Regions from separate parts of the Homo sapiens genome. Here all the other regions are reported to be linked to region 1. Evidence: microRNA targets listed by miRTarBase, many of them from high-throughput screens and not tested one by one. Region 1 holds a microRNA gene; each other region holds the end of a gene's coding sequence.
The links. The annotated mature microRNA hsa-miR-29b-2-5p reads CUGGUUUCACAUGGUGGCUUAG and lies in region 1 at 2,770-2,791, opposite strand. An mRNA with a match to its seed (bases 2 to 7 or 8) in the 3' UTR can be bound and repressed. Matches are read on the target gene's strand: a 7mer-m8 pairs with bases 2 to 8, a 7mer-A1 pairs with bases 2 to 7 and ends in A, and an 8mer does both.

Region 1 (5,105 bases):
TTTACAGCTAATAAAATCTGGTAAAATTTAGATAAGCAGGACCCATGTCCTACAAAGCATTTTCTACCTAGGTTGATAGCATGGCTTCATAAACCCGATTCAAGATGCTGTCTCTGGAAGAAACAGTCTACATAATTACCAATTTATTGTGCAAAACCACCTCAGAATGGCAATTTTAGATAAAGAGCTGTCCGCATCCAAATGAATAAAACAAAATAATCCTGTTTGAGGCACCGCAGTTACATTTTGCTTCTCACGACTTAGCAGTGTGGCACTATTTAAGCATTCAATGAGAGTGCTATAAACTTCTTTTATAGAAAAGACGTCTCAAATCATTGTTTTTGTGCTTTAATGCTGCACTCAATTTCACACTTACTCGTTTGAGGACTGGAATCAGGGCCTCCTGAGAGCAAAAATCTGTCGTCTGTATTTGCAACACCTAGGCTGGAGCTTTGAGCGTGGTGGGCGGATCAAAAACTGTTTAATTGGTAGGTAGTACAACAGACCCCAAAAATGTCTGACCTATAGGTATTTAATACTATTGTAGCCTATCTCAGTGGGAAGTGAACAAAACAATATAACTTAGGGTCTTAACTAACACCACCACTTAGGGTCTTCCCACCACATCCTGGGGATTAGAACATGGGTTCTTCCATCAACAGCCTGAAATAGCACTGCAGCTGCAGTGAGGGGGTGCAACATATGTACTGGCAAGTCTTCCCAGCAAATGCTACTTCCGCCCCCCACTCTCAGCCCACTGGGCAGGGCAGCCATCTAGAGGAAGACTGTGGCAGGGGGTTGGGCTTAGAAATGGCTTCCTAGGTGGCTGATTTGCCATCATTTATTGCAAGCCACTGGCTTAAAAGAGTTCTACTGAGGGTAGTTCATAGTCATGCACCTCCTGTGCAAAAAGCCTGATCAAGGGGCCACAGCCCGCCTTCCTGAAGATCCTACAAGCTTGATCCCCTATCAAATCAAATCTGGCTAATCTCTGAATAGCTTTACAAAACTGGCTCACTGGGCCAGGCGAGGTGGTTCACGCCTGTAATCCCAGCACTTTGGGAGGCTGAGGTGGGTGGATCACGGGGTCAGCAGTTCGAGACAAGCCTGGCCAACATGATGAAACCCCGTCTCTACTACAAAATACAGAAATTAGCTGGGCGTGGAGGTGCCACGCCTGTAATCCCAGCTACTCGGAAGGCTGAGGCAGAATTGCTTGAACCCGGGAGGCGGAGGTTGCAGTGAGCGGGGACAGTGCCATTGCACTCCAGCCTGGGTGACAGGGTGAGACTCCGTCTAAAACAAACAAACAAACAAAAAAAAAAAACAAAAAAAAACTGGCTCATCTTGTTTTGAAGTGTTGACATAAACTAATAGTCAAAAGCACCACTCAATCTTTTATAATGCAAGTGAAATCAGTGCTGTGCCCCTTCAAGGAACCATGTGACAGTATGTTTAGTTGAGCACCAGTTCCTTGCAGGAACAGTTGCTGGCAGAAGGGCTGTGTCTACAGCCCATGTGGAACTAAGGAGTTTTCCCATTCAGTAGGGAGCATCCCTCAGCCTTGATCTTCAACATTTCTTCTCTTCCCTAATCTTTTCTCTCATTTTATTTCTTGGCTCATAGAATTTCATTCTTCTCTTAATGGGCTTCATTTTTAATGTCTGGCTGGCTGTAACCTACTTCAAATTCTTTATGAAGTAGGCAAGATCTGCACAGCCAATTAATTTTTCAGGACCCACTTCTTATCATCACAGAATTATGAATGGGAAATAATAGATGAAAAACACAGACATGATAAACTGAACATAGTATTTATTAAGGTCAGGATGCATGAATAGACTCTTCTCAACAGAAAGATAATTCAACAGCAATCAATTTACAGAATTTAGAACAGCACTACATTTCAGCAAAATGCAACTAGAGAACATCAGATAAATTATAGTAATTTGTTTTTAAAAATCCATTAAACTATCTCTTACCTCTGCAATAATGTATCATACATGCAGTTACAGAAGTTAGTAGGGAAAAGCATGATCTTCCTTCCCTATTCTCTGCCCATCCATCTTCCAGGAAACCACAGGCTGCTGCTGCCCAGAGTTGGCATGAGGCTTCGAGGCTGCTGCTTTTCCCCCTACATCATAACCGATTTCAAATGGTGCTAGACAAAAACAGACTCTGAACACCAGGAGAAATCGGTCAGCCTGTGTAAGAGATGGGCCAGTGGTGCTCCCAGGGTCTGCACCTCGACAGTCCAGGTGGCAAGTCTGATTTCGGGTGCCCCGCAATCAACGCCGAATACTCCAGGGCATCCTCTAAGAGCAGACTGATGGTGTCGATGTGGACAAAATGGTCCTCCAGGTGTACTGCCCTCTCCCCTGCCCCATGACAATCGACACCCAATACATTGTTATCCAACAGAATATGACAATCGCCACACTCAAAGGCCCTACGAACACATTCATGCTGGTGATGGCTGCTAGGAGTCAACAGAAATAGCATCACAACCTCTGCCCCTGCTCAAGCCACTGTGTTTATTTTAAACACAACCCCCTTCTCTACTGTCACCTCTCCCAAAACCCAACAAACTCAAGAGTGTATTTTGCTCTTCAAGTTCTTCCCTGGACTTCTCGAACAGACTCAAGTGGCAAGAGGAGAGGAGCCAGTTCCATGAGCAGCAGTTCCTCTGCAGTCCACCCTTGGCTGTGCTGCAATTCTTACTCCTAAAACACTGATTTCAAATGGTGCTAGATACAAAGATGGAAAAATCTAAGCCACCATGTGAAACCAGCTTCCAGAAGAAGAGGATCTCAATGAAGAAAGAAGGGAGATTCAATCGGAAGACCCAGCCTCTGCCCTGAGGAGAAATATCTTCTTGTAGTTCTACTTGTGATATGACACAGTGCTCCATGGGAAAGGCACAGAGGAGGTTACACAGGGCTGCACAAGGCAACATGAAAGGCACAGCTGATGCTTCAAATAGATGAGAGCAATACAAAACTCATTAATTCTAGGTTAATTCTATTTAACTTCACACCAGTCACTACAAATTATTATATATGATGAAATAAAAGCTAAAATTATTACTAAAATACATTAATATTTACATTTGTACTGCCCTGCATTTGTATAGTATTTCACAGTACACAAAGTGTTTCCAGATATATTCTCTTACTTCATCAGGACACAAGCACCCTATCTGCCTGTGGAATGAAGCTCCAGCTGCTACACAAAGGCGAGTCTCACCTGGGCCAGGACAACTCTTTTATGTGTCTTAACTTGAGAAAAGCATGCATTCCTCCTTCCCACCCCATATGTAAGTATCAGAACATTCAAATATGACCCCATGAACCTGCAATCTTATTTAACCCCGATGTGACTTCAAAAACTGGTACCCTATAATTGTATTAAGCAGATAATCCTCTAACGTAAGAATTGAGTTTTATTTTCAAAGTCTGCTTGAAAATAAGATTTGCACACTGTATTCCAAATTAGATTTCCCATCTCCTTACTGCATCATCTTTTTTGGTGGTTTGAAGCTAAGAAAATATGTGTATTTCCTCTGATACCATAACCAAGAGAAAAGAGACAGAGTAGACACTGTATATTTTAGCTTCCTTTCAGGCCTCTAGATACAGCCTTATAATTTTTATGGTTCCTGGCACTAACAGTATGTGTTGCTAGAAGGAGAAGAAATAGAATTTGAACATCAAAAGTTGCGGTGTTTAATTCTCACAACAGTCGTATGGGGCAGGTATTATTCCAATTTTTGCGAAGAAATTCATCCTTAATGAGGCTAAATAACTTGTCTGCAGTCACACAACCAATCAATGCAGATCCCAGGTCTAACTCCAAAGACTGTGTTTCTGCCCTTGTATCCACTGCAGCCTGCTCCATAACTTGACTATCATCTCATTTTGTTCTTGAACTTCATTAAGAACAAAACAGGGTGGGTGGGGCAGGAAATTCCTAGGCGATACTTCTGCACTGAATGGGATCATACTGACTACATAACACGTTATACTTAGGGGGAGACAGGAGCATCATCTGGGTTCTGCGAAAGCCGGGTGGTCTGGGGCAGCTTGCTTTGTTCTCCTGCTCCTCTAGCGCCTTTGCCGTCTTTCCCCAGCATGTGGCTGTGGGAAAGACACTGAAGATGAACCTGCAACAAGCGATTCTGACACCAGCGCTAGGCTCTACAGCCCACGGGGGACTTGCTAGCCTCAGTCACAGGTGGGAGAGCTGGGGCAGATCTGCACACAAGGGCTCTCAGTGATGACACCTGTAGCCAACACCTGGGGCTTGTTAACCAGGTAACAGCCAGGGTTGTAAGGTCAGGAGTGAGTGTTTAAGGACAGTTACTACTGGGAGTCCAAATCCTGTCAAATGAGGGGATTTGATGAGATTCTCACTTTTCTGCTTTTCATTTTAGCCACTCTTCCTTATCAACTTTTAGTTACCAGTACCCCCTCCCTATGAGCTATCACACAGGTGTCCCGCAGTGATCAGAAAGCACCTTCCTCCATGGCGAGGTCCTGCCTGCCTAAGCTGTTGTCTCTTCTGGAATACTCTCCTTCACCCTCCCTTGGCTACCACCCCTCAGCCCCGCCCCCACCCACCACCACTCCAGGGAACCTGTCATCCTCCCCGCAGCTCAGGAAAGCCTCCCTGAGTCCAGCCCTTGCTAGAAGGTTAAGTGGTCCTCGCCAGCCTCAAGTTCTTTCCTTCAAAAACCACTTATCTCACTTGGTCATCAGTGTGATTATTTAATGTCTCTCCTGCTACCCGTAAGGGACCATTCGGAGTACAGCAGAGGGGCTGTGCATAGCAGGACGCCACTGCCACTGAGGGAGTTAACAGAAGCCACAGTCTGGGTCCCCACTCCTGGATTCTAAAATTTAACTCTTTACTCTCTGGAAGAAGAGATAAGAAGCCATTAACAATGCATCACTTTAATTAAACACTCTAAAAGAAGTGGAGAAAAAAATCATGTTAGTATTGAAATCCTTTGCCTTTCCAATTCCACTGGATAAAAGGGGTCCTTCAGGTCTCAGCCCTCCCAACAGAACCAGTTTTCTCCTCTCAGAATCAGCTGAGCAATGACT
Region 2 (5,105 bases), not on the chromosome of region 1:
AGTGATCCACCCGCCTCAGCCTCCCAAAGTGCTGGGATTACTGGCGTGAGGCACTGAGCCCGGCCTATCTCTTCTTAATGACTAGGTCCTGACTAGTGTCCCCCACCACCCACCCCCAGCACCACCACCCACCCCCAGCACCACCACCCAATACCTTGTACAGGAATACCTTCCACAAATCTCTAAGTGGCCTCAGGCCACTGGATAGAGCCCCAGGCTCTAGCCACTGCATTTCCTGTCCCATTGGGAAAGTAGAGGAGGCTGAGGTTTCACCCCAGGAGATCCTTAGAGCTGTCCTAGTCAGCTAACTGGTACTCTGGGGCAAGACCTGTTTGCAGAGCATATGGGGATGATTGCAGAACTCTGTTCTAGGGTCCAGACCACAGTTACCTGAAAATGTGAACTATGGAAACCCATCATTGGTTTGTGCTTAAATAATACTTTGACCTCTCTTCCATGTAAATTTCATTCCTGTGACATAAATACAGCAAGTAGAACTGATCCCCATTTCATATGAGTAGACCAAGAAACACAGAGAAGTCAACAGACTTGCCTGTGGCTGCAAAGAGTCACAGCTGGGCCCAGAGCTGGTGTGTGTGTGTGTGTGTGTGTGTGTGTGTGTGTGTGTGTGTGTGTGTATTTTTATTTCTTTTGAGATGGAGTCTTGCTCTGTCACCCAGGCTGGAGTGCAATGGTGCGATCTTGGCTCACTGCAACCGCCGCCTCTGGGGTTCAAGCAATTCTCCTGCCTCAGCCTCCCAAGTAGCTGGGATTATAGGCACCCGCCACCATGCCCAGCTAATTTTTGTATTTTTAGTAGAGACAGGGTTTCACCATGTTGGCCAGGCTGGTATTGAACTCCTGACCTCGGGTGATCCTCCTGCCTCGGCCTTCCAAAGTGCTGGGATTACAGGCGTGAGCCATCATGCCCAGCCAACTCTCTTAAAAAAAAAAAAAAAAAATAGAGAGATAGGGTTTCACCATGCTGCCCAGGCTGGTCTCCAACTCCTGGGCTCAAGTGATCCTCCCACCTCAGCCTCCCAAAGTGCTAGGATTACATAAGTGAGCCACCTCGCCCAGCTTCCATTTACTCATCTTGCAAACTGGGGATTATTCCTTCTCTACCTCACAGACCTGTTGTAAGTATAAAATGAGATACTATACAAAAGACAAAAACAAAAACAAAACAACAACAACAAAAAAAAACACTTTGGAAAGTAATAAAAGCTATACAAATGCTCATATCTTATTTTTATTCTTTGTCTACTTCCTAGGGGAAGAGTAATCTAAAAAACACTGCAATGGCCTATGTTCTAGGTTTCATGGGAAGGCTGACGTATTTTGATGTGTGTATACTATCCATATACTGTGCACTCCTAAGGACCAATAATGATTGAGGTAGAGTATCTGCAACGATGTAGGGGGTCACAAAGGAATCGCTTTTACAAATGCAGAGAGCTATAAGTAGTGCCTCAAGCAATTTCAAAATGTGGAGGCACAGTAAGCCTCACTCTGCCTGCATTCTAGGTGGCCTTCGTGATCCACCCCTTGAATGAGGGCTTTGAGGAGGGGGCGGGTTGCCTTTGCTGCTTTCAGATCCTGGGGAGCCAAAGCCTCCCCTGACTCGTTGGTCTGAAATTGCTTTCGTGGTCTGCCAGGGAGAATCCTGCCAGGAAGAGCCAACCTACTTGGGGTTGGGGTTGGCTGTTCCAGCTGTTTACCAATTGCCTCTCACTTGTAAAGTGTAGCTTTAATTATAGTTTTGCCAGAATTCATTTTAGGAATGGCCACTAACAATGATTTACTTGGGGAAACCTGTAAGCAACTGTGTCAAGCCACGTGCAGTGAAACCTGAATTAACTGAAATCTCATTAACTAGAATACATATTTCCTGCTCACCTCATTAAAAATGGGAGAACAAAGAACATAACACATGAACTGAGTTCCTATTACATGTCAGACACTTCACTACGCACTGGAACTACATACAGTGCAAAGAATGGACAGGCATTCTAGGAACTGACTGTCTTCCTAAATGGAAATCTGCTGTTTAATTCCAGTCAACTAGCAGGGGCTCCAAGACTTGCTGTTAAGCCAGACAGTAAATCAAGTCACTGTTCTTTTAAGATTGTTTCCTTTGGCCCGGTTTCATGGGCCTTATGTTGCAGAAACCTCTATGGACTTCCTCTTCAGGATTTGCTTCCAAGCAGGATGTTTTGCCAGCTGCCCCGAGTCCCCAGTGCAATAGCTGCGGCAATCAGTTTGGTGACTAACAGCAGGCTCTCCATTTAAATCATAAACTACATGGGTGAGTGGGGAAAAGTCTTCTCTATATTTTATATTCCCTGATCCAAACAAACCAAATGTAAAAGGGCATTTATGAGACAACCGGGATGTTTCAAACACTGACTAGACATTTCATGTTAATGAATTATTGTTCATTTTGTAGGTGTGATAATGGTGGGGTTGTGGTTATGTTTTTTTAAAGAATCATTATCTCTTGGAAATATATACTAAAGTATTTACAGATAAAATGATATAGTTTTGCTTTATAATAATTCAGCAGGTCTGTAGTAATTGATGAAACAAGATTAGGCATATGTTTATGGTTGCCTGGGGGCTGAACTGTATTATCCTCTTATTTTGCTCATGTTTGAAAGTTTCCACGGTAAAGTTTAAAAAAAATAATAATAACCCTTCATCGGGCGCGGTGGCTCACGCCTGTAATCTCAGCACTTTGGGAGGCCAAGGTAGGCAGATCACCTGAGGTCAGGAGTTTGAGACCAGCCTGGGCCAACGTGGTGAAACCCGGTCTCTGCTAAAAATACAAAAATTAGCCAGGAATGGTGGCACATGCCTATAATCCCAGCTACTTGGGAGGCTGAGGCATGAGAATTGCTTGAACCCAGGAGGCGGAGGTTGCAGGGAGCTGAGGTTGTGCCACTGCACTCCAGCCTCGGTGACAGAGTGAGACTCCGTCTCAAAAAAAGAAACAAACAAACAAAAAAAACCCTAATTATGTTAAATTAAAAATGTTTGTATTTCCTTTCCATCCACTACCTGAGTCTAGTAGAGGAGATAGAAGGTCCTTAATCCCTGCTTTCAGTCTCCCTATAAACTATGTGAAACTTTATAAACTTCTATTAACACAACATCTAGCACTCAGGAATCCTTACCTGCTGATCTCCTTATAAGAGGTTTTCATGAAGCCAGTACTTGTAGGATTAAATGTAAGGAATTCTCTATAATTTCTAAGATCTCTTCATTTTCCTCCGCTTTTATTATGGGTTTTTTTTTTTTGTTTTTTTTTTTGTTTGTTTGTTTGTTTGTTTTTTTGAGACGGAGTTTCGCTCTTATTGCCCAGGCTGGAGTGCAAAGGTGCGATCTCGGCTCACTGCAACCTCCGCCTCCCAGGTTCAAGCAATTCTCCTGCCTCAGCCTCCCGAGTAGCTGGGATTACAGGCATGCACCACCACGCCCGGCTAATTTTGTATTTTTAGTAGAGACAGGATTTCTCCATGTTGGTCAGGCTGGTCTCGAACTCCCGACCTCAGGTGATCCGCCCGCCTCGGCCTCCCAAAGTGCTAAGATTACAGGCGTGAGCCACTGCTCTCAGCCTTATTATGGTTTTGAGGGGTACAGTCAAAGGAAATTTGAGGACTTGAACCCCTCAGATATGAAACTGCCACCAGCGGGAAACAGAGAAGTGAGTTTCCATTGACTCTGGACATTCTCAAACCTGATGCAGGGGGATGGGAGAGGGTTGATGCTGACTGTGACATTGCAGGACGGAGCTTGTGAAACCCAGTTTCTCTCATCACCACGGTTTCATTAATTTTGAAAATAATGGTTATAGCTCCTTTTGTTTTTGAGATGGAGTTTCGCTCTTGTTGCCCAGGCTAGAGTACAATGGTGCAATCTCGGCTCACTGCAACCTCCGCCTCCCAGGTTCAAGCGATTCTCCTGTGTCAGCCTCCAGAGTAGCTGGGATTACAGGCCTGTGCCACCATGTCCGGCTAATTTTTTGTATTTTTAGTAGAGATGGAGCTTCACCGTGTTAGCCAGGATGGTCTCAATCTTCTGACCTCAGGTGATCTGCCCTCCTCGGCCTACCAAAGTGCTGGGATTACAGGTCTGTGAGCCACTGCGTCCGGCCCGATTATGGCTCTTTAAGAAAAAAACTTCCCACACTGAAACCTCAAATACTGATCACAGGATCCACCTGTGTTACCCAGCTGTTCTAGCAGCAAAAGTCTGAAAACGACCCCTCACTTTAATCAGGCAGGCAGGCAGGCATTCCACATGTACACCTGAAACCACACCAGACTATTTCTGCATATTATAAGTCACGAGAGAAAACCAGCTAGACCAATGAAGCAGCTTCTTCTACGATTAGATGCTTGTGTTGGGGGTGCGGGATTGGGGGAGATATGTTCTAGAAGCCACTGCCAGTTCTATTTAGAGTTAATCAAGCTTACCAGGACCCTGGGTCTCATGCAGCATGCAGCAAACAGCAGAGTTAACTGTAAAACAGTAAGAGCTGATGAAGATGGAGTGAGCATGAGGGGAAATCAAATATTATGACTTGACACAAACAATGAAGGGTTAGAGGTCAAAGGTGATTAGGAGTAGCAGGAAGGGGAAGTGGGAAGGGTGGACTGGTAGGAACCCCTGAAACACTGATACTCTTTTTTTTTTTTTTTTGAGTCAGGGTCTCTCTCTGTTGCCCAGACTGGAGTGCAGTGGCGCAATCATGGCTCACTGCAGCCTCAACCTCCCGGGTTCAAGCAGTTCTCCCACCTCAGTCTCCTGAGTAGCTGGGATTATAGGCAAGTGCCACCAGGCCCAGCTAATGTTTATTTATTTATTTTTTTTGTAGAGACAAAGGTCTCACTATGTTGCCCAGGCTGATCTCAAACTCCTGGACTCAAGCAATCCTTCGCCTTGGCCTCCCAAAGTATTGGGATTACAAGCATGAGCCACCACGGCTGGCCAGTACTTTCTTAATCTCTTTAGGGGCAGCTAAAGGAAATTCTGAATATGTGACTCTTAGATCCAACCACCATCTCTCAAGAAGAAATACTACTACCACCATTTCTGCCCTC
Region 3 (5,091 bases), not on the chromosome of region 1:
AAAGTTTATGAATTTGTTTTGGGCCACCTTCAAAGCCATCCTGGGCAGCATGTGGCCCATGGACAACAAATTGGACAAGCTTGCTCTAGAGGATGACTTCTAAGTATAGCTATGGGCATCCCCCTCAAAGTGGACACCATGCAGGCTGTGTGGCTTGTGCAAGTCACACCATCCCAAATAACATCTTTAAATTTGTCTACCCAGGCATTTCACATGATGTAGCTAACAAAAACTTTTGCTGTTAGAGAAATATACAGAAAATCCTGAAGGATGGATATACACCAAGAATGTTAAAAGTAGCTGCCTCCTATGAGATGAGTAAGTTCTGGAGCCCTGACATACAGTGTGGTGGCTATCTTAGTAATAATGAATTGTATACTTGAAATTTGCTGAGATTATTTATTCTCACCACATAAAAAAATGACATAGGCCGGGTGGGGTGGCTCACGCCTATAATCCCAGCTCTTAGGGAGGCAAGAGGCGGGAGGATAGCTTGAGCCCAGGAGTTCGAGACCTGCCTGGGCAGTATAGCGAGACCCCGTTCTCCAGAAAAAGGAGAAAAAAAAAAAGCGTAAAAAATTACATAAATTTGTAAATGTAATTTGTCAACTTGTAAATTTGTTTAACTCAATTTAACAAGGTGATGGAGATGTTTAGTAACCTCCTTGTGGTAATCATTTCACAATGTATACATGTATCAAAACATTATATACCTTAAATATATACAATTTTCATCAAATACCTCCATGAAGCTATAAAGAAATTTTTAAGTTATATCATAGGATTGTGATAGTATGTTTCATTTTTTGCATGCTATCCAAATTTTTCTGCAGTAAACATATCACTTCTAAGACACTAAATGCTTAATGAACAAAGCCAAAGGTCACCTGTCTAGTGCACTGGACAAGATGTCTATACTCCAAAATTATATTTCAAATTATTTTAAAAGGAGTCTATATAATTCAGCAATATCAAAGTGGTCCAACAGTCATGTGCCAGAGCATACAAAAAGATGTGGTCCTGCTCTTGCTTTAAGTAGGAAAGCAAGATGTACGCATACAAAAATGTTTAAATGCCAGGCAATATGAGGAACTACTGCTAAAGGTATACAAGCAGGAGGTGTTTCATACGTGTTTTGAGAAAGGGCACACTTATTTGTGAGCTGCAACAAGGAAGAAGGGCTTCATGGAAAAGGGGGCCTTGAACAGGACTTTGCAGGATTCAAATTAAATCCTGAAAGAGCAATTCAGAAAGAGAATGACCCTGGGCAGACTGAGATTTGGGAATCAACACAAGCGTCGGAGTGATAGTGAAGAAAGTAACCTGGCTCTCAGCGTAAGAGAAGAACCCCAGTGTTTTCTGGGGGAGTGGTAAAAGGTAAAATGATTGTGGGAACAAGACCAGAAAAAGTAGAACCGGCTTAAATGAATTTGGGGAAAACTGAGTTAAACAAATTTACAAGGATTCGTTGTAGTGATCTAAGCTCTCAGTAGGCTAATGTGCGTTGAGTCCCCACTGAGGGAAGGAAGCTAGTGTTATTAGGGTATAGAAGATACCTTTGGCAAAGCAGGAGTTTAACAGATAATGGAGGAAAAACAATGAAGGGTTTGAATGCTAAGGCTAAACTGGGCATTCTGGCCTTGGTCCTTCTAACAAGGCCTGGATCTCCCACAGAACAAAGGCTAACCTGCTAATATACCTTTAAGTTTTTACACAACAGAACTCAGAACCAGATATTGCTGTCACTTCCCATCCCATCCACTTATTTATATTCCCAACAAAGGTTAGTCCCATCTTCTGAGAGCACCTTACAGTCCGCGGCCCCTTCCTGATGATCTAGAAGCTTGGGAAGCAGCACACCTCCTTATGAAATCACTGAAGGGTGACTATGAGCAACAGGAAGCAGTGGAGGATTCCAAGTATGACATCAGAATACATTTTTTAAAAATCTTTTAGAAATTTTTTAGAATCTGATCAAGCAGTTTTTGCAAATTACAGGTGACAGGCATTTGTTGTAAAATCAATTCAAGGTGACATAGCCAGGATTTCTTAAAAAGCAAAGAAAAAAATGCACACATGCACCAGATACATCGCATGCAAGAAGGGCAAGTCATATTTCAGGATCCTTCTGTCATGTATAATATACTGACCTCTGTGTTCTGAACTGTAGTTCAAAATGTATTTCTTACTTGGGTCACAACTACAAGGTTCAAAAGTCACTACTCTATTAGATGGAGGACTTAAGGCAGAAATTGGAGGCTGCCACATTCACCCAAAAGGCCCTGGGATGGTAGCAGTAGGAAGAAAAGATAAACAGAAGAGACACTTAAAGAATGTGGGTGAGGGAAACCAATGAGAAGGCCAAGGTAACTACACCTGGGTAACTTGGGGAAAAGGTAGCTATAACCATAAACAAGTAAATTGTGGAGAGCTGGTTAAGGGGTATGTAGAGATGGCAGGGAGGCACACTTGATTTCCAGAGACAAGAGGACATCCAGATGGAACCACAAAATAAGCCCTCCCTCACCACCTCAAAAACAAGTCCACATTACTATAATTTGGTTACCTATAACAATACTATATTAATTCTTTCACTTATACAATGTTTTAAACTTATGGTCTGTCCTCAACCAAGTGGTTAGGGACTTTTAGAAGCACATAATCACACTAAAGAACTAATACCATCAGTCCCTGGCTATTACATTATTTACCTTCCCAAGGGCTTCACTGTGATTTAGTATTTGATGGCTAAGTACAGAAGGGTCTGTTATTTGGCTCTGTGTGGACTATGACTACATCAACACGGGGATGCACAAGCTACCTAAGCACTACTGCGCTGGCACTAGTAAAGCACTGAGCCAAAAGGTCCCCAGAGGCTGCCACATAGTCTCTGCCCATCCTGAGTGAAGCTGCACACTTGGCTCAAAGGCCCTGCTGATCCACCGAGAGGGCACAAGGGGGCATGAGGGAAATGGCTGAACTCCAACAAATCACTTTATGCAGGACTGAATCCCCAACACACATCAGAGGAGACAATTAAACGAGGGAGAGTGGACTTAAAGGTAAAATGTCATCCCCCAACATGCCTGTGATGACGAGTTTTGCCTTACACAAGCCTTTTTAAGTAAATTATATTAATTACCAACATTCAAAAACATCCAACATTCAAGGGTTCTGCATCTCGTTTATTAGCACAGAAATAACAGGTTTAGAGTATATTACAAAAAGAGCTCAAACTGTTCAGATACAGCAACTGGGCTTACTAGGGGACAGAAGGGGAAATACGTCAGACTACTGTACAGGGACACAAAGACTCCTCATCCTAAACAAAGTATTAAGGTACATAGACAAGTTTCTTGTAAGACAGAAAACAGAGAAATCCACAGTAACTCTAACACATCCCTTAAGGAATAAGCATGTATTTGTAGGAAGCAAACAAAGCTTTCCATAGAGAAACCACTTTCACAGGATGATTAGGTGGACCTGCAATGAAGAAAATACATTTCAAAAGATGGGTTCAGACTTACACCAAGTTTTCACTGAAATACTTAAAAAAAAAAAGACCCTTCTCTGTATCAAAAGAATTAAAAAAAATACATCACGGATAAAATAAATCTCAGGAAAGGTCCAAGTCCTACTCAGAGACATACATTTGCAAATTAATATAAATTTTAAAGTTTGACAACAAAAATACTATTTGGAACTACCTAGAATAGGCCAAGCTAAGTTCGTGTTCTGCTTTAGTGCATTACATTGAAATGAATCTCATTCTCACTATAATTTTTTTCTTTTTAACTTTAATCACCAGCGGCTGGTCAACTGAAATGGACATAAGAACTATATAAATGTCAGAGAAATATGTAAACCTCATTAATGTTTCCAAAAATTCATTTAGAGATAGAAACAGGTCCAAATAGATGCCTGTCTAAATGCACTGCAATTACGTTACAATTATTTTTCCAAATACACAGATATGCTCTGTCTTTTCTCAGCTCATTACTGACTCAAACAATTTGCCCTTCTGGGATCAATTGTTTGCTAATAAATAATTGTTTACAGTCACAAAATGATATTAGGAGGTTTTCTTATTAGTTTTCCTTCTGCACCCTAATAAGATTGAAAACTAGCTGATTCCCAAGAGTCTAACCTTAACCTCGCTTTGTTTAACAGCCCAGGAAATGATGAACCATCTGCTTCAGAAAATAATGGACGGCCAAGAGGAAATATTGTTTAATTGTAGATTAACCTCCTCATGAAGCAGTCTGAAGCAGCTTTAGAATTAGCAACTATAACCAGCAAAAGAAACAAATGGCTCACGAGCCTTTTCCTCTACCATTTAAGGTCCAGAAAGAATGCAAAGGGATTTTTATTACACTTATTTACAAACATTTATTTCCACAGTGGAAACAAAAAATCATCAAGGTCAAAACTGATTCTCAAAACTGCAGTCACTTGCCCTCCAATTTTGTTTGCCCAAATACCTTTAATGCAGCAAACCATCAAACCATCTCATGCACTTAAGAAGGTGTTTATTTAAAAAAAAAAATTCAAAAACCTCTTTTCCATTATTTTCAGGTTGTTATAATATTAAAATTAATATTTTCCCTGGTTTCTTTAATAGTAATAAATCCACCATTGGGGAGTACGAATTGTTTTATTATCATCAACATGGCACTTAAGTAAATGAAATCTTGTCAAGTACATGGTGACCTACAAGTTCAAAAGAAAAAAAGAACAGCATGAGATCAAAATGGCCAGCCAGGACAGGAGATACAAAAGTGACAGATTAAATGCAAACACAGCCCTTTATCCAACAGGCTTCACATGCTAAGACTTTTCTAAAGTCAAACCTGTAAAAGCATATCTGATATGGAATATTTAATATTCTGCCCCCTCTTAGGGGCTCAACCAATCAGCAAGGGTACCATATCCATTTTAACTCAGCAAAGTACAGGAATCCTGAAAACATTCAGTTATTCTACAAATATGTATCGAGAACTTCCTTTAAGGGCCTGGGGAGAGGGGACAAGGAACTGGGCAGATACTTGGAGTAGGTATTTTATAGTTTAACACATGCTGAAGTATCAGATT
Region 4 (5,099 bases), not on the chromosome of region 1:
TTTCTTTTAGCAACAGCAAGTTGACATAGAAGTACTGGTGGTTGGTCCAGCTAATGTAACTCCCTCAGTCCAATGGGTATCACTGGCGGACAGATACGTTACCAGCTTGCACAGTTAACTCATGAAGTCTGAGAAGTTATCCATACTTCTCAGGCTGTTCTATATGTCCTAGCTACCTGAGCAAAACACTTTTGGCCCTGATCTTTGTGCCACTACCTTGTGATTAGCAGATATAATTTAAATCTGGATACAAAATATCTATATATTTTCTCCATTTCCTTGGCTGAGTATCCGTTGTGGGGGTTTAATTGAAGTCTGCCCTCCAGATGAATCTTCATTATACTTGGATGGCTGCTCCATTCAATTCTTTTATATGATTCTCCACTATAAGCTATTTTCAATATGTGAAGGGCCAACATATGGATTAGGGTTTAGGTTTATTTAATATGACCCTAGACAGCAGAAATGGCTTGGGGTAACATATAGGTTCATATATTTTAAAACTAATTTCCTATGTGTAGTAATCTTATTTAGTTTTGCATTCCCAGTGTCTGCACTAGAGTAGGCACTTCTCCATAGCAATATTGGATGAATGGCTAAATTTCTAACAAGAGATATTTAAAACTAACAGGCTGCTCCAAAAGACATATTCTCTAACACTGGAGCCAAAAGTAGAAAGCCAGATGCAAGCCAACTTACGCATCAGAAAATAACCCAAGTGACTTCTAAAGTCTTTAAATGCTTTAGCTATTTACACTATCAAAACATTTTCATCAGAGACTTTTTTTTTAAAATATGGACAGGTGTGATAGAAGACCCAGCAGGAAGGGCTTCTATCCCCTAGAGGGGACCTATCATATGCCCTCCTGCCATGCATGTATGGATTTTTTTCTTTTCTTAGGAAGCAGATGGGATTAAAAGACGTGATTATGGTCTTTGAGGCTCAAGGTATCTGGACTGTTTTAATAAAAATGTTGCCTATGGCTGGGCACGGTGGCTCATGCCTGTAATCCCAGCACTTTGGGAGGCTGAGGTGGGTGGATCACCTGAAGTCAGGAGTTAGAGACCAGCCTGACCAATTGAGAAACCCCATCTCTACTAAAAATACAAAATTAGCTGGGCGTGGTGGCACATGCCTGTAATTCCAGCTACTCGGGAGGCTGAGGCAGAATTGCTTGAACCCGGGAGGTGGAGGTTGCAGTGAGCCGAGATTGCGCCATTGCACTCCAGCCTGGGCAACAAGAGCGAAACTCCATCTCAAAAAAAAAAAAAAAAAAAAAGTTGCCTATCTGCACTGAGAAAGTAAAAGACAGTTAATGTCCACTGGTTTAGAAATAGTTTCCTTACTCCTTTGATAAATATTTCTATAAATAGAGGATAAAATAATCTTTTTATCTTAATTATGGTGACTGCATTTAACAGAAGCCAACATAGGGAGTGCAAAGGTAGTAAATTCATTCCCAAACCCAGTGTTTATGCCACACAAAAAGTTAACTTAAGGCTTATTTAGGTACCTGTTATTTTGTGCAACCTGGAATTACTTAAAATACATAAACAAATAAGCTCACTTTGAATCTTGACTGAATATCAGACATTTTCTTCTTCAAGTGTGTTTCTTCTCTAGAGACGCCAAGTCATCTCCTGTCAGACATACTATATAGATTCAGGTACTGTATCTATTAACTCTATTCAGTACTTAGTGAATGTAGAATATGCCTTAAGCAAAGTAGGATCTATTTCATTTGTTGAGGACAAATGACCATACTCTGTTCAGCATGTACAAAGCTATTGGTTTATTCAGCTGCCAAGCTGGGGAAAGGCTTCCTTTCGAAGTGAATAGCAAAAATGCATTCATGAGCAAGGCACTTTTATACACACACAGAGAGAAAAAGGAACGTATTATGAACACATGAACATAAACATATTTTAATATTCAGACCTCTTCCCTACCTCCTCCCACCTCCACTTAAACAAACAAACAAAAAAAAAGGAAACAGTTTCCTGTAACATTTTAGAAACCAGTTTCACAGAATACCTACATAGGAACAATTTCTGATACATTCAGTTACACTAACAATATGATATGGTTTCAGGTCAATAATTTCCACTAACAAATACTTTTATTCTACAATTCCCTCTTTTTTCCTTTAGACAAGACAACTAAGGCTCAGCAGAAATATTCACTAGGTTATAAGCATTCTTCTCTCTTCTTAAAGTTGCTATATATTTACACAATTTGTGATTCCTAACCTTTTTTTTTTTTGAGACGGTGTCTCACTGTTGCCCAGGCTGGAGTGCAGTGGCGCGATCTCAGCTCATTGCAACCTCCACCTCCCAGGTTCAAGCAATTCTCCTGTCTTAGCCTCCCAAGTAGCTGCGATTACAGGCACATGCCACCACGCCCGGCTAATTTTTATATTTTTAGTAGAGATGGGCTTTCACCATGTTGGCCAGGCTGGTCACGAACTCCTGATCTCAAGTGATCCACCTGCCCTCAGCCTCCCAAACTGTTGGGATTACAGGCATGAGCCACCATGCCTGGCCTGCTTCAATTTTTTGATGCCACTTTGTAAACGGCACTTAATTATGGAAAATAGGAAAAAGCAAAACTAAAATAAGGAAGAGGATATATATATAACTTTTCACAATCTCTTTTCTGATTCCCTTTAGATGCCCAGTCAACCAGGACCACACACAGATTTCATTTTATTTGTAGAGTATATGAAAAGATTTAATAGTCTCATGCATTTTATTTTACGTATACTGATTTCTACGTTTTGACTGACTATTTAAATAAACAAAACAAGACTCATTTACAAGGGCATATACTCTTCCTTGTTTGGCCAGAAGAAAATCTATAGCTAAATCTACTTAGAAAAACAATGCTGCTAAAACTCTTAACTTCAGATTGTATTAGGCTGAGATTTTCTAATAACAAGGTTCTTTAAAATTAGAAGGGTTCAATCCCAGCACTTTGGGAGGCCGAGGCAGGTGGATCACGAGGTCAGGAGATCAAGACCATCCTGGCTAACACGGTGAAACCCTGTCTCTACTAAAAATACAAAAAAATAGCCAGGAGTGGTGGTGGACGCCTGTAGTCCCAGCTATTCGGGAGGCAGGGCAGGAGAATGGCACGAACCCGGGAGGCAGAGCTTGCAGTGAGCTGAGATCATGCCACTACACTCCAGCCTGGGCGACAGAGCAAGACTCCGTCTCAAAAAAAAAAAAAAAAAAAAAATTAGAAGGGTTCCTGAAAAGTTTGCAATGGATGTGGAAAGTACTTGAGCTTTTACTCCAGGAAATGCTATACAGATTAAAATTTTAATCCATTAGCAGTTAATGCTGAAAGCAGAAATGCTCTCTTAATCATTTTTCCATTCATCTTTTGAAATGTTATTTACTCTTGACAAAAGTCTGAGTACCAAGATTCAGGAAACACATTCCCTACAGAACAGGTGTTTGTTTAATCCCAAGGGATGATCTTATAGGCTGATTTAGTCAGAGACAGCCTGGTGGGAGACTCCGATATAGAACGTTCATGCTGTAATTTTAAGTACCATAATAAGTTTGTAGTAGTATAGGCTAGGCTTAAAACTGCACTCCTCCTGCCTCCCCGCCCCCTTCCAAAAAAAAGAAAAAGTGAAAGGAACTCTAAAGAGTGTCATATGCAGGCACATCTATATAAAAGCTGGGAAAGAAATTCATATCCCTGCCATTTTCCTTTGTGTAGTTACCCAGTTTAATTCAACTACCTCAAAAAAAAAAAAAAAGAAAAAATAAAAGGAACCCTAAAGAGTGTCATATGTAGGCACATCTATATAAAAGCTGGGAAAGAAATTCATAGCCCTGCCATTTTCCTTTGTGTAGTTACTCAATTTAATTCAACTACTTCCACAGAAATGTATGTTAGAGAAGAGTATGCTCAGAAAGGTATTATTGTGGGTAGCTAACTTCTTGCTTTCAACAATGGCTGTTCTAAAGTCTGGATAACAAAAGGGGTGGTGGTCTACTTTTCTTCATTAATAATCAGGTATCTCATTAAAGCCATTCAGAAAGGCAGAGTAAATTGGGGTGGGGAGGGTGAGAAGTGAGTGTGAAGAATATTCAACTATCTTTTGTAATATGGTCCCCTTAACTAATTCTCCTTTTTTTTTTTTGAGACTGAGTCTCGCTCTGTCACCCAGGCTGGAGTACAGTGGCATAATCTCAACTCACCGCAACCTCCGTCTCCTGGGTTCAAGTGATTCTCCTGTTTCAGCCTCCCGAGTAGCAGGGATTACAGGCGTGCACTGCTGCGCCCGGCTAATTTTTTTATTTTTAGTAGAGACAGGGTTTCACTGTGTTGGCAAGGCTGGTCTCAAACTTCTGACTTCAGCAGATCCACCCGCCTCAGCCTCCCAAAGTGCTGGGATTACAGGTGTGAGCCACCATGCCTGACCTTGATATTATCATTTTATCCACAGGGTTTGTCAAAGGGTATCCTCATTGGCTTGCCAGGGCATAAGAGAGTTTGACTGAGAAGGCATTAGTGGGCTGTGTAATGACTAACTTTGTACCACTTTCTCAATTAGCAACATCAGAGATATCAGAGCAAATGGTAGATCTTTACAGTGATGCAGTTAGGAGTTTGTTAACTGCCTTTTGGAAGTCAGTGTAAGAATAAGTAGTGTTGATGGGTTCAGTACGAGTTGTTTCCTTAACTGTTTTAGTCAGCCAGCCACAGCAACACCCAGAAACACATGAATTAGGGATCTGTTTTAGGTATTCAGGTATGGGAGTGGCTCTACTCAATGTTCGGCTTAGCTGTTTGGTGGCAAATTGCAGTGCTCCATTTAGAGTGGCATGATCTCTAGAGAGCCGGCTGGGACTTGTAAGAGGCTTTTGAAAAGGTGGGACTCCACAAGAGGCCAGAGGGGGCCATTCAGGAATTGGTTCCAGTTTGGGGACACAATGGGAACAATGGGAGAGTCTTAGACCTATCTCTCGAAGTATATGGACTGGTGTGCTTGGATCCAACAGTTTAGCATGATACAACCAGGAATTAGGATTTAAAGGTTTCCAAGTTGTGGAATATTTTAAAAGGCACTTAACCTGCCAGG
Region 5 (5,105 bases), not on the chromosome of region 1:
AGCCTGTTTACCTGCTGTCAAAGTGAGCATTCAAAGGGACACCCCAGTGGCTCCCCACTTCCAGGCCTCTTGGCAAGTCATGCCTCCAAGTCATTGGTGGCATCCTGCAGCTCTCCACTGACAGCAATGCTTCTGCAGACTGCGTCTGCATACTCTTGTAGTGCTGGTTCAAGACTGGGCCACCAAAGACTCAGCTGAGAACATAACCCAAGAGGTCACCAAAGAGGTGTTGCCGCCTTTATGTGGTCCCCTTCGGGATGGAGGATTTCTTCAATGTTATTAAATAGCATTGCCGGTCAGAATATTCTTGAACCCTATGGCAAACGTCTCTCCCTCGAGAGTGGATTTGATTCTTGGACAGAGCCAGTGGCCAACATGCGAGTTGGGGAAATGTAATTTCTTAACAAAAAACACGGTGAGAGTGCAAGAGGAGGAGGTTGTTTCTTTTGTGTGGTTTGTTGACAGGCTCTGAAGGGTTCTGCTGTTGAGTCGCCGCAACACCTCAGGACCAAACGCCAAGGGTGCCAAAGAGACCTGGCATGACAGCTGCTATTTTTTGTTTGTATAGGTTCTGGTGATGAAACCACATACCCCTACCATCACTCAGGTCCACATCTCCCACCAGCAAAACAAATGCATCAAAGTCAAGTTTCAGGACAAAGGTCCTCCTCGGAGGACCCCAGGACAGGCACAATCAAGGGGAAACATAGTCTTGGCTTTGAGTTAAACTGGCAGACACTTGTCTCTCAAGTTTTTGGTGTAACAGAGTAGGAAACAAAATCATTTAGAAAGTCAAGTCTCTTACAGCCTGTGTGTAAGAATTGCTTCTCAACAAGGCACATCACAGTTTTATTTGGAGATTTCCAAATGTTTCTTGGTATGTATATAAAGCATATATTTTCATAAGAAAAATACTTATCTGCCTTTTAGGCAGTTGTTCTTTTTGTATATCAGATAGTAAATAGATTGTCCCTTTGAAAGCATCCATTAGATAGATCTACTTTCGGACACTGAGGCAAAGGCCTCAGGCACAAAACAGAGTCAGGGGCCCAGAGGATCACAAAACTGGCCAAGCCCTCCCCTAACACAAATGCACTGGAAGAAAACATGAACCCATTGTTAAAATTAATACTAGGATTGCAGGATGTTCTTTAATCTGCGTGATTGCTTTATTGTACAAAAAGTTTCCAGTAACAGTAAATTGGTTTTAAAAAAGGACAAAAAAGTCATTTTGGATAGAAGTGCTTCACTAATTGCTTTATTTAAGCATACAAGAAAAAAAGTTTTATCTGACCAATTACGTTGGAAGGGTTTTATTACCTTTAAGAAGCCATTAGCTAGGATAAAACACTGAAAGCACTTGTGTCAAAACAAATAAATAATGTAAATAACGCTCTCTCAATTAGCAGAGAAAACAGTGAATCCGTTAAATCAGAGACACACATCACTTCACAAGCATGGCCCAGCCAGCACCACCACCCCCAAAACGAACAAAACAAGAGACAGCAGTTTTCAGTTACAATCTTGGGAAAGATCAGGAGCTTTGGAAAACGCGTGGTAAACATGTCTGTTTCTCCTTCTACCTCCACTCAACCTGAGCTGCACCCGGACACTTTAAAGGAGGCATGTGTCCAGAGGCTGCATCCAGGGATGCCCAGAGGGAGCCTGCCCTGCTAGGCCTCCTCTCAGAGGGCGCATCCCAGGCAGAGGAGACTGGCCTGGGTGATCGTTACCTCCACGGCCCAGTAGAGTGTGGAAAAACATGAGGTGCCCACAGACAATGGCTGCCAGCGAGTAAAGGGAAAGAAACCCTGAGGTACCATGATTCTTTTCTCTTACTTCCTCAAATGCTACTGATCTCTCCCCAAGTACAGGCTCAACAGAAAAATACAGTGGTTTGAGGACCCCAAGAAGTCAGCACACAGGCCAGGGGCCAGCTCCAGGCTGGGTCTGTCTCTCCCACCTTGGGAAACCCAGCGCTAAAACAATTTTTTTTTTTTTTTTTTGAGACGGAGCCTCGCTCTGTCACCCAGGCTGGAGTGCAGTGGTGTGATCTCGGCTCACTGCAACCTCTGCCTCCCGGGTTCAAGCTATTCTCCTGCCTCAGCCTCTTGAGTAGCTGGGATTACAGGCGTGTCCCACCCGGCTAATTTTTGTATTTTTTGTAGAGACGGGGTTTCACCATGTTGGCTAGGCTGGTCTCGAACTCCTGACCTCGTGACCGCCTTGGCCTCTCAAAGTCTGGGATTACAGGCGTGAGCCACCGAGCCCAGCCCCTCCTTAAAACAGTTTCTAATCAGATCCGTTATTTTACCCAAATGGGTTGAGGGAACAAAAACCAACCCTCATCACCCTATTTGGTGAAAATAAATATAAAAAAAGATGATCCTCTCTTAAAGGGTCACTTTCCTTCAGGGGTTTGTAAGGCTCAGCACTTTAAAAAGCTTGAACAGAAGTCCGGTATTGCCACTGTGGACTGTTTTTGAGGCAAGTTCCCTAATGTGGACAGCCCCACACCTAAGAGCAGCAGATCTAACTTGGAACGTCTCAACCATGGGTTAAAATCAGATGGGATGAAAGAACACCTGCAGTGACTCTCAACAGCTACGGAAGTCTCACATTGCAGGGCTGACTGATGAGGTGCTGGCTTCTTATTCTCCGGCCCTCTTTCCTAAGCAATGTTTGTCAGGGAATACCAGGTCCGCTTCCTGAAATGCCAGGGCCCCTCTAGGACCTTATCATTCCACAGCCACATCAGTAATAGGAAAACCACCAATGGCTACCTGGAGGTGGCACCAACTTGGAAAGGGAAGGCTGGGCAGGGGTTTGGACACTAAGCCCATGAGCTGTTTGGACAACTTCAATCTCTGGAATTGAGTTTAAATTTCTGTAAACAACTTTAAAGTCAACTCTAGAGAGACATTTTGTGTGACTGGTCCAAATAAAACAGCACATTTAATGAGGTCATATTCTTCTTAAACTTTTTAAGAGAAGCAAAAACAATGGAAAAGCCATTAAAATTTACACAAAGACCATTAAAACTCTACTAGTGTCAATTAAAACAAAGCCAATAAAACATGAACAACTTCAAAGTTACCATCACTTTCCACACTGTTCTACAGTTATAGGAATATATTCAAGCACCATATTGATAATAGGTAGGTAAACGATGAAGTCCTACTTTGGCGGTCTGACCCACGCTCACACAAACGAGGAGCTTCCTAGTCAAGATGCCCCCAGTCCTTGGCAATGTGCCTGCTTCCTGGGCATTGCTCAGTGGCAATGGAAGAGCCAATAAATCAAATCGCTGGTGGAATATTTTACTTTGAAATGGAGTGATGTTTGGTTAATAATTTGAGATCCACTAATCCTAAATGGGGTGACCCATTTAAAATGGCCTCTGTGTAAATTCACAGTTCATTAAATAGAGTCTGGTTTGAACAGGTCATTATGTAGTTAGTATATAAGTAATGGATTGAGCAAGGATGGCTGGGGATACCCATGGGGACACACTGGCTGAGTCTGGTGGCTTTCATAACACTGTCAAGCTTTCTTTTAATGTGAGATTCATTTAAATCACCAACTTAAATTTAGGTGGTTTTGCTTAGTAACCTCTTTTGGTTTACAGTAGAAAATGCAGTGCAAAAATTTTAAATGAGGAATATTCCATTTACAATTAATTTAAAACTTATGAAGCTGTTTTAACTGGCCCATCTAAATGTGTTAATTAACATCAATGATGGTTTCTTATTTTTCACACTTTGTTACTCTGATCATTAACAGTGATGGAAAAGCTAAATTAAGTTAATGGGGAACGGATTATAAATTCTTAAAGGACTTCTTAGTTTGTTTTCAACTGGAAAATATATAGAGAAAGATGAAGGGGCATTTTTGCCTCTACTCATCAATTTTTGGTACCAAATTTCTTAAAAACCAGATGGTTTAAAGAAAATTTTTCCAAAAATTATGTTAACATTCTGCTCAGACATGGCTGCTAAAAAAATAGCATATACACATATAATACTGAACAGCTTCTGCAGTGCCTGTAAACTCTCAGCTCATTTTCTCTTTCTAAAAAAAATATATATTATAACTGATCCCAGAACTCAATCTCTATTGTGCAGCAGTATCAAAGGTCCTTAAATTCTCAACAATGAAGGAAAAACAAAAACCCATTCCCCGGACCGCTTGAGCAGGACTAGGGAAGGAGGAGTCCGTGGATGCAAAGGTTCGCTGCCCCGACGCCCTCAGATTCCTCGAGGCTGCACCTCTGCGGGCAGCTGGCGGGGCGCAGGCCAAGCCCCTCACACCCGGGAGATCCACACGCGCGGCACACACGAAAACCCAATGCCACTTATCGAGACTTCACGCCAACGAGGACAACAATGAGCACAATGATGATGACAAATAATATTAAAATCACAAGCATCTTCCGATTCTTCTTTTGATACTGTTCTGCCTACAAAAAGAGGAGGGAAAAAAGGCCGTCATTTTCCCCAAAATCCCAAATCAAGTCCCACTCGTTTCCAGAATGAGGCTTCCAGATCTCTCTGCACAGTGACTGAGGTCTCTGCTACAGGCTACATGATTGTAATCCCTCCAATCAATCCCACGGAATTCAATCACCAGGAGTGGAAGAGCCCCATGATCCTGGTGCTGCTTATTTACCCTGGACGTGGAAATGGATTTGTTGGAAACCTACTACTAAGACAAAGCCTGACAGGGAAGTGAAAGCTCATGCTTCCGGGTGCAGCTGGGCCTGCTTCTCCCGGCTTTTCCTCCTGCAGGCCGTGGCAAGTGCCCCTGCAGCACGGGTCGCCTGTTCCCGGTCCGTGTTCCTGGAGCGAATGCACAGTTCCTTCACCGCGGAAGGAAACAACGGGCTGGAGGACCGTACCTGGCAGGTAGGCAACAGACACCCGGAAGAGGCCCCATTTCGACCTCCCCTAAATTTGGAAACAAAAACTCATCCTTTGAAATAAAAACAGACACGTGTGCCCCATGGATGTCATATGCAGAAAGATCCCTCTGAGGCGCGTCCTCCCAGTGCCGCTAACGATACAGCAAAGGAGCCCTCCAAGCTCAATCTGGGGACGAGGCTGCAC

Region 2: miRTarBase lists SEPTIN6 as a target of hsa-miR-29b-2-5p. The part of its 3' UTR that is shown has no 7-base or 8-base seed match.
Region 3: miRTarBase lists BUB3 as a target of hsa-miR-29b-2-5p. Seed matches in the 3' UTR shown: 7mer-m8 at 4,607-4,613.
Region 4: miRTarBase lists DCAF16 as a target of hsa-miR-29b-2-5p. Seed matches in the 3' UTR shown: 7mer-m8 at 2,085-2,091 and 7mer-A1 at 1,789-1,795.
Region 5: the mRNA of STX16 is a reported target of hsa-miR-29b-2-5p. Seed matches in the 3' UTR shown: 7mer-m8 at 3,741-3,747, 7mer-A1 at 3,618-3,624 and 7mer-A1 at 1,202-1,208.

The regions. Positions count from the first base shown.
Region 1 is chr1:207,799,723-207,804,827 of GRCh38, forward strand. MIR29B2 (microRNA 29b-2) reads right to left here and starts at 2,801; the gene lies at 2,721-2,801. It overlaps MIR29B2CHG (MIR29B2 and MIR29C host gene), which reads right to left. Exons shown (of 6, transcript NR_135299.1): 6 at 1,796-2,940. MIR29C (microRNA 29c) reads right to left here and starts at 2,217; the gene lies at 2,130-2,217.
Region 2 is chrX:119,620,857-119,625,961 of GRCh38, forward strand. SEPTIN6 (septin 6) reads right to left here. Exons shown (of 11, transcript NM_145799.4): 10 at 4,479-4,523. The coding sequence ends at 4,520. Among named protein-coding and RNA genes, the nearest start is that of NKRF, 17 kb to the left of the region's middle.
Region 3 is chr10:123,163,439-123,168,529 of GRCh38, reverse strand. BUB3 (BUB3 mitotic checkpoint protein) reads right to left here. Exons shown (of 8, transcript NM_004725.4): 8 at 1-4,710. The coding sequence ends at 4,695. Among named protein-coding and RNA genes, the nearest start is that of BUB3, 12 kb to the right of the region's middle.
Region 4 is chr4:17,798,886-17,803,984 of GRCh38, forward strand. It overlaps DCAF16 (DDB1 and CUL4 associated factor 16), which reads right to left. Exons shown (of 3, transcript NM_017741.4): 3 at 1,770-5,099. The coding sequence ends at 4,606. Among named protein-coding and RNA genes, the nearest start is that of DCAF16, 9.3 kb to the right of the region's middle.
Region 5 is chr20:58,675,541-58,680,645 of GRCh38, reverse strand. STX16 (syntaxin 16) reads right to left here. Exons shown (of 9, transcript NM_001001433.3): 9 at 1,120-4,459. The coding sequence ends at 4,355. All of the region lies in intron 8 of STX16-NPEPL1 (STX16-NPEPL1 readthrough (NMD candidate)), which reads right to left. Among named protein-coding and RNA genes, the nearest start is that of NPEPL1, 15 kb to the left of the region's middle. RefSeq lists enhancers at 3,769-4,293, 4,294-4,819.